Regions from separate parts of the Homo sapiens genome. Here region 2 is linked to region 1. Evidence: fine-mapped expression QTL. A gene starts in region 1. The other region holds a variant in brackets. All regions are shown on one strand. Distances are from middle to middle. Region 1 holds the start of TRAM2 (translocation associated membrane protein 2). Region 2 overlaps TRAM2 (translocation associated membrane protein 2).

The links.
Region 2: its variant is fine-mapped to the expression of TRAM2 in lung (TOPMed, PIP 0.95).

Annotation. Positions count from the first base shown.
Region 1 is chr6:52,574,918-52,580,288 of GRCh38, reverse strand. TRAM2 (translocation associated membrane protein 2) reads left to right here and starts at 3,229. Exons shown (of 11, transcript NM_012288.4): 1 at 3,229-3,493. The coding sequence starts at 3,374. TRAM2-AS1 (TRAM2 antisense RNA 1) reads right to left here and starts at 3,087. Exons shown (of 3, transcript NR_103446.1): 1 at 1,896-3,087; 2 at 680-914. RefSeq lists a silencer at 2,657-3,516.
Region 2 is chr6:52,500,078-52,505,448 of GRCh38, reverse strand. TRAM2 (translocation associated membrane protein 2) reads left to right here. Exons shown (of 11, transcript NM_012288.4): 10 at 695-858; 11 at 2,179-5,371. The coding sequence ends at 2,252. Among named protein-coding and RNA genes, the nearest start is that of TRAM2, 74 kb to the left of the region's middle. RefSeq lists an enhancer at 484-1,683. The variant C/T (reference allele first, on the strand shown) is at 2,350.

The DNA of each region.
Region 1 (5,371 bases):
GGATCACCTGAAGTTGGGAGTTCAAGACAAGCCTGACCAACATGGAGAAACCCTGTCTCTACTAAAAATACAAAATTAGTTGGGCATGGTGGCACATGCCTGTAATCCCAGCTACTTGGGAGACTGAGGCAGGAGAATCTCTTGAACCCGGGAGGTGGAGGTTGCAGTGAGCTGAGATGGTGCCATTGCACTCCAGCCTGGGCAACAAGAGGGAAACTCCATCTCAAAAACAAATAAACAAAAAACACCAACTTTCCATTCCTTCCCATTGTTTGCAGAATAAAGTCACAATTCTTTATCACAGCATACAAAACCTGCCACAATCCAGTTCTATCTTAACTCTCCAAATTCATCTATCACTCCTTTTCTGCATTCTCTGTCAGTACCATTTGTCAGGTAAAGGCCCAGCCCAAATGACCTCCTCCCTTACACCCCAGAGAGAATTAGGTTACCTTTTCCTTGTACTCAGAGTGTGCATATTTCAGGTTGTTCTTAGAGTCACCATCATCACACTGAATTGTAATGATGTCTCAGTCAATTCTAAAAGATTGTAAGCTTTAGCAGTGTGTATTAGCTATCTCTTGCTGTATAACAAATTACAATAAAATTTAGTGGTTTAAAACAGCAAATATTTATTCTCTCCCAGGTGCAGTGGGTCAGGAATTCAGGAGTGGCTTACCTGGCTAGTTCTGGCTCAGGGTCTCTCATGAGGTTGTAGTCAAGAGATTAGCAGGGGCTGATGTCATCTGAAGGCTTAACTGGGGCTGGAAAATCTGCTTCCAAGGTGGCACACTCATGTCTGGCAAGTCAGTGATGGTTGTTCGCAGGAGGTCTCAGCCATATGGAGGATATGCCTCCACAGGACTATGAGTATCCTCACAAAGTGGCAGCTGGTTTCCTCCAGAGGGAGTGACCTGAGAGAAAGAAAGCAGAAACCCTCAAATGCCTCTTCTGGCCTAGTCTTGGAAGTCACATACCATCACTTATGCTACCTTCTATTTATTAGGAGTGAGCCACTAAGTCCAGCCCACACTCAAGGTGGGGGAACGAATTGCCTCTTTTTGAAGGAAGGAATGTTGAAAAACTGGAGGACATATACCCATATGCCACGTAATGATATTCAGGTCAAACAACATATAAAACAGTTGTTTCATAAGATCTTAATGGAGCTGAAAATTTCCTATCACATAGTGATGTCGTAGCCACTGTAACATTGTAGCGCAATGCATTAACCACGTGTTTCTGGTGATGCTGGTGTAAACAAACCTACTGTGCTGCCCCATAATATAGTTTAGTATAAATGTGTAGCAAAAGGCTGGGTGCAGTGGCCTGTAATCTCAGCACTTTGGGAGGCCAAGACGGGTGGATCACTGAAGATCAGGAGTTCAACACTAGCCTGGCCAACATGGTGAAACCCTGTCTCTACTAAAAATACAAAAATTAGCAGGGGGTGGAGGGCACCTGTAATCTCAGCTACTCAGGAGGCTGAGGCAGGAGAATTGCTTGAACCTGGAAGGAGGAGGTTCCAGTGAGCCGAGATGGCGTCACTGCACTCCAGCTTGGGCAACAGAGAATCCGTCTCAAAAAATGGCGGATCACTTGCGGTCAGGAGTTCGAGACCAGCCTGGTCAACATGGTGAAACCCCCACCTCTACTAAAAAATACGAAAATTAGCCAGGTGTGGTGGCACATACCTGTAGTTCCAGCTACAGGCTGAAGCATGAGAATTGCTTGAAGCCAGGAGGCAGAGGTTGCAGTGAGTCCAGATCTCGCCACTGCACTCCTGCCTGGGCAACAGAGTTAAGACTCTGTCTCAAAATAATAATAATAGCAGTGGGGGTAACTTAAATTCAACCATCTAAACCTATAAAGAAACCAATTGTATAAAGTTCAACCTCATAGGTGTGGCCGCACGTTGCAAATTTGAACACATCTTCACAGGTGGAAAGTCGAGGTGCTTCAGAGTTCTTGATCTTTCTGTTCCTCACAAGACGAAGGTTCAACTTTGAGAAAGGTCAGCCTTGAAGTTAAATGAGGTTTAGTCCAATCTAGGCATTACTTTGTCATTTCCTTGAGAGTCAGATAAGGGAATTACAGACCCAAGACTGTATTTTAAGTAAGGTGGAGTGCAGATTGAGGAAGTAAAATTTCTCTAGGAACTCCATCCTGTCTCAATTACATTCCACCGCGTGCCACTTTTAAAAAACCATATTTATTTAGAAGTGAAATAACTGTGGACCTAATAAAAAATGGAATAGGAATTAGTTTTTTTTGTTCATTACGTATTTCTGCACATCTAGAAAGTAACTGACTGCTTCATTACTGGTAGGATTAAATCCAATATTTGCGAATATAATTTATTAAGAACACCTTTTGTCCTTCCAGGAGTACTTTTAAGACTTAATATTAAATAGAAACTTTCAGTGAGAAAGTTCCTTCCTTTTTTGCTTCTTCTGTGTTTATTCTTCCACTTCTTCTGATTAATATGTAAGGTAGACTTTCGGTGAAATGTGTGTAGCTAATTAATGGTGGCATGAGGGTCCCAAAAATTACTGGGCAAAACTGCAATCATCCACCCTCTCCCCGCATTGGAGCGAAAGCTCCCCTAGGGCAGGGTCTTTCGGTTTGTTGATCTACCTGAACTGTGCCTAGCCCACTGCAAGTTCTCGATAAATACTTGAGTAATCTCCATTCACTGATCGTCCGTGCAGGGCGCTGTGGCCAGCCAGAAGGCCGGTTCGCGGCTTCCCTGCTTCCGCCGCACCCGCGCCGCCCTCAGCCCCCGGGGCCACAGCCCGCAACCCCGGGAGCATCCGGCTGCCCGGCCACCCCCGGGGCGCTCGCTGCCTCCGGGGCCTGCCCTTCCCGCGGAGGAAGGAGCGGAGCGAGGAGTGGGAAAGCTGGGCCCACTTCCTGTCCGGGCAGGCCTGGGCGCCCGCCTCCTCCGCGGCCTGCTTTCTCCACCGCGAGCGGCTGAGCCTCGGGCCCCGAGAATGCGGCCGGGCGCGGCGCTGGCGCGGGACGAGGAGGAGCCGAGCCCCGCTCGCCGCCCCCGTACGCCTCCGCCCCGGTAGCCCGCGCGTGCCCAGCGGCTAGAGGGTTAAGCCCGCGGGGGGCGGGGCCAGGCGCGCCGAGTGCGGGCCGCGGGCTGGGCGGGGGCTGGGCGGGGGCTGCGGCCGGGGGCGGTTACGGGCGGCCGGGGGCGGGCGGAGGAAGGGGGCGGGCCCCGAAGTTGTTCCGCGCTGGGCGGGCGAGCGGCTGTGGGAGAGCGGGCGGCGGGCCGGCGGGCGGACCGGGCCGGTGCTGGAGAAGTTTGCGCTGCGGTTCGTGAGCGCAGGGTGCGGGCCCCGCCGGCCGCTGCGCGCCCGCTGCCATGGCTTTCCGCAGGAGGACGAAAAGTTACCCGCTCTTCAGCCAGGAGTTCGTCATCCACAACCATGCGGACATCGGCTTCTGCCTGGTGCTCTGCGTCCTCATCGGGCTTATGTTCGAGGTGAGAGCCTGGGGAGGAGGGAGCTGGAGGGACAGTGCCCCCTGTCGTGCACCGCCCGGCACACCCCTGCAGGTCAGCGGGCCCTCCTCTGATCGGAGGCTCCTGGCTGCCGTGTACGTTATCTGCACCCCGGCTTTGTGCACTGTACCCCTCCGGCCTGTACCCCGGCCAGCCCAGACAGCACCCCCAGCTCCGCGCCGTGCCAGCCATGCCATGCTCTGCCGCCCCCTTGGGCACTCATCGTATCCTGCAGCTCTGTCTGCAGCCCTGAAACCCCAGCCTGGCCTCGAACCAACCGCCGCGCTGCCACCATGGCTTGACGCGTGGGGTTCCCTTTCTGGCGTCCAGGAGCCAAGCCCAGAGACTCCCAGACCCGCAGTCATTGCACAACCCCCTCTTGCCCCAAGGGGTGGCCACTAGCTCTTCTGGGCTTTTCCAGTGGGAGAGACCCAGAACCTTTTCCACTTCCTATGTGATTTTCTGGGTGTTTTGCATCTCAGCTCTGGAACGTGCTCGGATGTTCACGTGTGGCCCTGGCCCCATCCCAGCAGTGGCCTTCTGCTCTCGTCTCGCTCCCACTTTTTTGCTGTGCTCTAGAAGGCCAATTTTTGGATATCCTTTACCACTCCGTGAACTGTCCCTTTAGATCCATCTGCGGCGACCCAGAGCTTCACCCCCTTTACAGAGACAAGAAGAGAGACAGGGATACCCTCCACTTTTTGGGGAAAGTTGATTCTCTTATAGTGTAGGAGTGGGGGGCAGAGGATGGGGATCCCACCCCCAACAGCAATGTCCTGGTGTCGGCCTCCCAGGCAGGGAGTTGTAGAAAGCCAGCAAGGGGTCAGAATTCACAAGACTGATGGGAAGGATTCCCTACTCTTGCAGAGCAAGAAAAATGTGATATTCAAAAGTGGGAAGAACTGGAGGAAGCTTGGCATGGGTTTGTTGCGGTATATCTTGTCTCAGAAGTGAGATATGTGAGCGACATTCCCCTCACTCTCACCGTGGTCTCCTCTGGTTCCTGAGACTCCTTGTCCTCCCTTCTGCGTCAGCTTGCTTATTGCATTCTCACGGTTGGGTTAGGAAGCTGTGATCATTTACAAACTTCCTTGGAGATGGAGGATGGCTTGCCTGGCTAAATTTCCTTCCCTGTCCCTCTGTCTCGGGTTCCCTGTATCTCTACGAATGACAAGGGCCCTAATTGGCTGGCGAAGCTGCCCTCAAGCTGGGAACGTTCTTGTGGTGGCCAAGTCAGGGTTGGATGAATGAATGTGTCCGTGGCTGAGCTTTAGGGTCTGTAGGAAATAAACGGTGGTGCTAGGACTGGGGTCTCCACTCCACTTTTTGATAGTGCTCCTTTAGTTCAGTCCCTCTCTCCTTCCTCTCCCTCTCACAGCTCTCTCTAGTGGTATATTGGGTCGGGCTTGCTCCACCTTGTTCTGGGTTCTCCCCTGGAAGTGTGTGGTGTCACACAGAGTCATATCCGTGTGTCTCAGTCCCTGTTCTGTGACTAGTCTGACTGAAAACTGACTGCAGCCTCAGTTTCCCCATCATTAAAGACGTTCATAAAACTGGTCTTCGTCACAGGGTGGTTGTAAGGTTTAACTGAGATCATATCAGCAACAAAAGCCATAACATCTCCTACCAACATGAAAAAGTCTCTTGCGCCTGGAGCCCTGTGATTATTTATCATAATAATAGCTTAACAAAATAACAGAATTTCCTTTGCCCAGCGCATTCTCTGCTGTCTGTTTGCTGTCCTCCATTCTAAGAGGCCTCCAAGTGCGTGTCCCCAGCCTTGGAGGGTGTGGCTGGAAAGATACACGTGACAGCTGTAAACCTCAAAGCCACAGGCTGCAGCGACGAAGTTTCTCGCAT
Region 2 (5,371 bases), 75 kb after region 1:
AGATAGCAGCCTCTGGTTCCATCCAAACCATCTTCATCCCCTAGTCCTGGTTTGCTCAGACTGTAGTCCAAATAGGAATCCCTTACATTTGTCTGGCACTTTGTGGTGCACAGAGGCATCACACCCAGTCTCTCAGTTGATATCATTCTCCTCTTCTTGTGTGTGGGTGCTTTAAAACCATGTGCTTAATGGCTTGGCCAGTGGCCTCCTGTGGCAGTGAGGAAGCCACTATTTTCCGGAGCCCCTAGGCCCAGGAGAGTGATTTGTCCAGGGTTGCTCCACTTTTAAGTGACATGTTAAATGAGAAGCCACTCTTCCAGAAATTCAGTTCATTTGAATGCTACCAATATTTGTGGAGCTTACATTAGTCTTGTTCTGTGCAATGGGCGCAAAACAGACACAGCCATGGACCCCTCCCTCGTCATAGGAGTAGCGTGATTGTAGAGCTGGCCGTACGTCTGTCGCCACTTCCTTCCCGTCTCCCTGGCACATGTGATGTATGCTGGAGCAGAGACTGACTGAAGCACACATTCTTCCTGGTGATAGTGGTGGTATCGAAGAGGGCCAGTGGTGAAGGCGGACGTGATAAGCCATGGGAACTGCAGGGCCCCTGGCCCTTGTTCTCCCCTGCACAACCCAGCCCAAGGCTGTGAGCCCAAGCCCCAGCCTAAGCCCCTAACCCCCTGCTCTGCAGGCTCTGCGTGCTGCTGCTGGTGTGTGCCGCCCAGGCCTGGCTCATGTGGCGCTTCATCCACTCCCAGCTGCGGCACTGGCGGGAATACTGGAATGAGCAGAGTGCAAAGCGGAGAGTCCCAGCCACACCCAGACTACCAGCCAGGCTCATCAAGAGGGAATCTGGTGAGTGCCAGGGCCCTTGGCAGAGAGTGGAGCCAGGGAAGTCTGTCTGGGATGGGTGGGAGGAGCCAAGGCACCTGGCTTCTTGGGCGCTGCCCAGACCAATCCTGCCAGCTTCTCCTTCCTGACTCTTACCTCAGGGCTGGGGCTCCTAGCTCCCTGATTGGCACGTGGCTGGGTGTGGGCCAGGGACAGGCTGTGGGTGGGGCTGGCCCTAACTAGGCTGGGAGCCCTGGCCACCACGGGGCAGGGCAGTGGCTGGGTGGGGAACTCTGGCAGGAAGCGTGTCCTCAGGGTGGCTTCTGGACCCCAGCCAAGTGCTGCTACTGCCGCCGCCGCCCATTCTCAGTGCCGGACGGCGGCCTCTGTCCTCACCTGCCCTTTTGCTCCACATCTTAGCCTGCCCCTGCCTCCCAGCTTGCTGGCTCCTCCTCTGTCTCCAAGAATGACTCACAGTGACATAGTGCTAGGTGGGGGGTAGGGGTGGGACACTTATCCTTTGGCCCGTGCACGCACTCCAGTCATCACCCACCTTCAGCAGGTCCTCAGGCCCTGCCAGCCCTGCACGTTCTGCCCAGCCTGGGGGCCTGTCTGCACTGGGCGCTGCTTTCTGACTCACCTGCTTTTCTCTAGGTGGCCACCTGCTTGGCAAAGGCTTATGTGTGTTTGAACCAGACACGCGCGCAGCTGGGTGTGTCACAGAGTCAGGCCTGGCTGGCGGGGGAGGTATGGGGCATAAGACTGCAGCCAGTACCTCTGAATTTGAGCAAGCGCACGGAGGTATTTTGAACAATAGAGCACAATTTTTCTGCCAGAGGAGTGTCAGGCATCCTGCTTGAGGCCTTGTTCCTACAGCCTCTTGTCCCCCTCCCTTCTGTGGCCACTGCTCCTGGGAGTTCTTGCTGAACTGGAAGTGGGCTGATGCCTTGCAGGGGCCTGAGAAGAACTGAGGACAGTGAGCAGTGACAGCATCTAAGTGATTTCGGCGAGTATCTAGCCCCAGCCTCAGGCTTGGGCAGGCTGGCCTCTGTTGTTGCTGAGTTACTGTGTGTCATCCCAGGCCCCTCCTGCTAAAGTGCAGTCAGAGACCAAGCCTCTCAAACAGGGCCACTAGTCCAGGGCCCTGGGGAAGACAGGACCCTCCTGGGAGCCGTCTGCTGGCTTGCATTTGCTGTGCAAGGCTGCAGCCTGGCGCCCCTTTGGTGCATCCATGTATAGCAGCTGGGCTGCCCGGGCCCCTTCCTTGGCCTGGCCCCACCCTCCCCTCTTCTGCCTTAGCTCCAGCAGAAACACCATGTATGCTTGTCTCTCTCCACTTCCCAGGTTACCATGAAAATGGAGTGGTGAAGGCAGAGAACGGAACCTCCCCACGGACTAAGAAACTCAAGTCTCCCTAAGGCCAAAGTGCTAAGAACAGGAATCCTCTTGGTGGGGGCCGAGCAGGGGGCAAGGAGCCCAGGCCCCCTCCCTGCCTCCTCCTTCCTGCCTGTGATG[C/T]TCCGTCTCAAACAGCCGAAACCTGTCTTGCAATGGGGGGAGGGGGCGTTTCGCTTTCCTTCTTCTTGGCTTCCTCTTATTCTTCCACAAACCATTCTCAATAAAGCCAAAAATCTTTCTCTTTCTCCCCCTCAGGCCACCTCCTGTCCTCACTCCTGTCCTGTGCTGGCTTTTCTGGAACGCCAGGCGCCCATGGCTGGCACCTTTCTGCTTGCTCTGTCTCTTGCCTTATGGCTGCTGCTTTTCCTTTTTACTTCCTATTTTCACCTTATCTTGCAATTTTTCTGTCTGATTTTTACAATGGGAGGGGAGCTAAGATTGCAGTCCTGTCCTTCGGTCCCCCAGGGCCTGCCGGTCAGAAGCCTGGGGCTGGTAGGCCCTTGGTGGTCCTCATGTGGATGGGCAAGAAGAGAGCGGCCATCTCGGATCATAATCTCCTTGGTGCTGATTAACTGACGAGATATATGATTCCAGTTCTGCATGTACCATCTTGAGGCACAGCAGCCACTGCTCGTTGTAAATGCCAAGGCATTTGGCTTTGGGACGTGACAACTCAATCCAGAAGGATGGTGTGAACTCGGTTGGGTCCCGTGACTCGAGCTCCTACCAGTGGCTGGCCGCGGATTGGAAGCCAGCCTGCTGTCGCTCTGTGGGGGGGGACACGTCTTCCCACTGCTTAGAGCGAGAGCAGAGCAAACTGCGCAGCAGGCACCTCCAGAAAGGTAATGGTGGCAGAACCCACAGTGGAGTCGACCTAGGCCTTTCTCCAGCAGTCCCAGTCGCCATTGCTTTTTCAGCCATTCACAAGCATTCAAAACCAAACCAAACAGCAGTTCATATACCTGCCTGAGATAGGCTGGTCCTCACCTCCAGAGCCAGCCAGCCCCGTCAGGGGCCAAACTTACTACCTTGACTTCATCTCTAGCTGCAGAAACACTAAGTCTCAAGGGCTTCAGCCCCATGCTGGTCCCTTGGTGTTCAGGGAGGGTCACTTGGACCGCTGTTCATCTGGCCGCCCTTGTTGAGTGTTCTTTGGAATTGTCGTTTTTTGAGCACAACTACAGCATTTTAGACTGCATGAAACCATGACTGACTGAGAGTCACTCTCTGGGTAGATGATAGGCGCCTTTCTGGCCCCTTCCCTCACAGATTCTTTCCCCTCCCCTCCACCTGAAGAGAAGGCCTCCAAGTCCTTTTGGTGCCTTGTGAGGACTTTTAGAAGGGGCGTTCAGCTTTAAAAAGCCGGTCCTAATTACGGCCGGACGCAGTAGCTTACGCCTGTTATCCCAGCACTTTGGGAGGTCGAGGTGGGCAGATCACCTGAGGTTAGGAGTTCAAGACCAGCCTGGCCAACATGGTGAAACCCCATCTCTACTAAAAATACAAAAAATTAGGTGTAGTGGCAGGCACCTGTAATCCCAGCTACTCGGGAGGCTGAGGCAGGAGAATCGCTTGAACCTAGAAGGCGGAGGTTGCAGTGAGCGGAGATTGTACCATGGCACTCCAGCCTGGACAACAAGAGCGAAATTCTGTCTAAAAAAACAAAAGTCCCAATTAAGAACCTCCGAACTCTGTTTTGAGGCAAAGGGGAGTAGTTCTTGGTAGGTGCAGGAATAGTAGTGTCATTTGGAATACTGGTCATCTTTCTGACATCACAGTAGAAACCAAACCTTGGATTTAGATTCAAAAGGGGGGAAATGGGTCTTTTCATCAAGGCAACTCCCCTTCTCCAAGTCACTTACATCATAGATAAATTTTAGCTTCCCAGTAACTGAGGGATTTGTTTCCTAACGCCATTGGAGGCCTTCATCCCTCTCTACGATAAGGTTGCAGAAATGGGAAGAGCTACCCGTGGTTGCTTTTGATTACCCTTAGGAAGTGAGACAGTGTTTTTGAAAATATGTATTTCCCCCATTTCTCCCTCTCCTTCCCTGACACTTCTCTGGGCTGCACAGCAGAAACGTTGGTAAAAGGGCAGTTTGGTTTCAACACAGCAGACCTGATATGGGATCCCTTAGCCACTTTAGTCAAACAGCCCTGACAGAGTCTATAATTGAGTTCAGGCCCCCCACCTTGCCTAATAACTGCAAATCGCATGTTCAGCCAGCAGCCTCCTAAGCCCACCTTCCTCCCCCATTAGAGAACACCCATCCTAGGTGCTCTCCAGGCTGTGTCATTGGCAGGGCTTCACATGCAGGAGGCCTCTCTCAGGTGAGTCCAGGTTAAACTGTTGAGTTGTGGCTTCAACAGATATGTATGGCATGCTGGGATGTGCCAGGTGCCTGCGTTGTGCCAGTTGCTGGAGAGGTAGTGTGAGCAGAGCAGCTGAAATCTTGCCATCAAGCAACCCTCATTCTCATGCCTGTAGGTTTCCATTGCTCTGTCCCAGGACACTTGCGTGCCAGAGACGCCACAACTTCATGTCCCTGTCTCTTGCAAGCTCCCCGTGCTGCCAGTACTTCATGCCTTGGATGTGGTCCCACCAGCCCAGTGGCCGGGGTCAGCTTAGGCTCTGCTTCCCAGTGGACGGGTGTGCTAAGGGTTTATTTTATGTAAAAAAAAAAAAAAAAACAAAAAAAAACCCTGAGACCATGAGTGGGGCTGGCATCTTGCCAGCCTGGGCTTCAGGGATGTTTGGGGGGGGTGGTTAGAGGGTAGTTGTAGGGTACTTTGTCACCCCCCTCCCCCTGCCACCCTCCCTGGCACGTTTATTTCACAGCAGAGCCAAGTCTGTGGCAGGTTGACACAGACTGTGTTGCCAGAGCTGAAATAATTCCACTTCATCCTATGAGCGTGTTGGGCTAGCTTGTTCTAATTTTGGCCACTTTGGCTGTTTTCTTCAGTTTTATGCATTCTCTCCTGCCCCAAAGTGCCAAGCCATTTGTGAAGGCTCTGCCAGACACCTCCAAGCTTGAGAGCTCAGCACCATGCACCAAGAGCAGGAGAAAAGACGTAAACCTACCCCAGCAACTGTGGCCTCTCGACAGCCCTGGCTAACTAACTTACATTTGTGGGGAAGCCA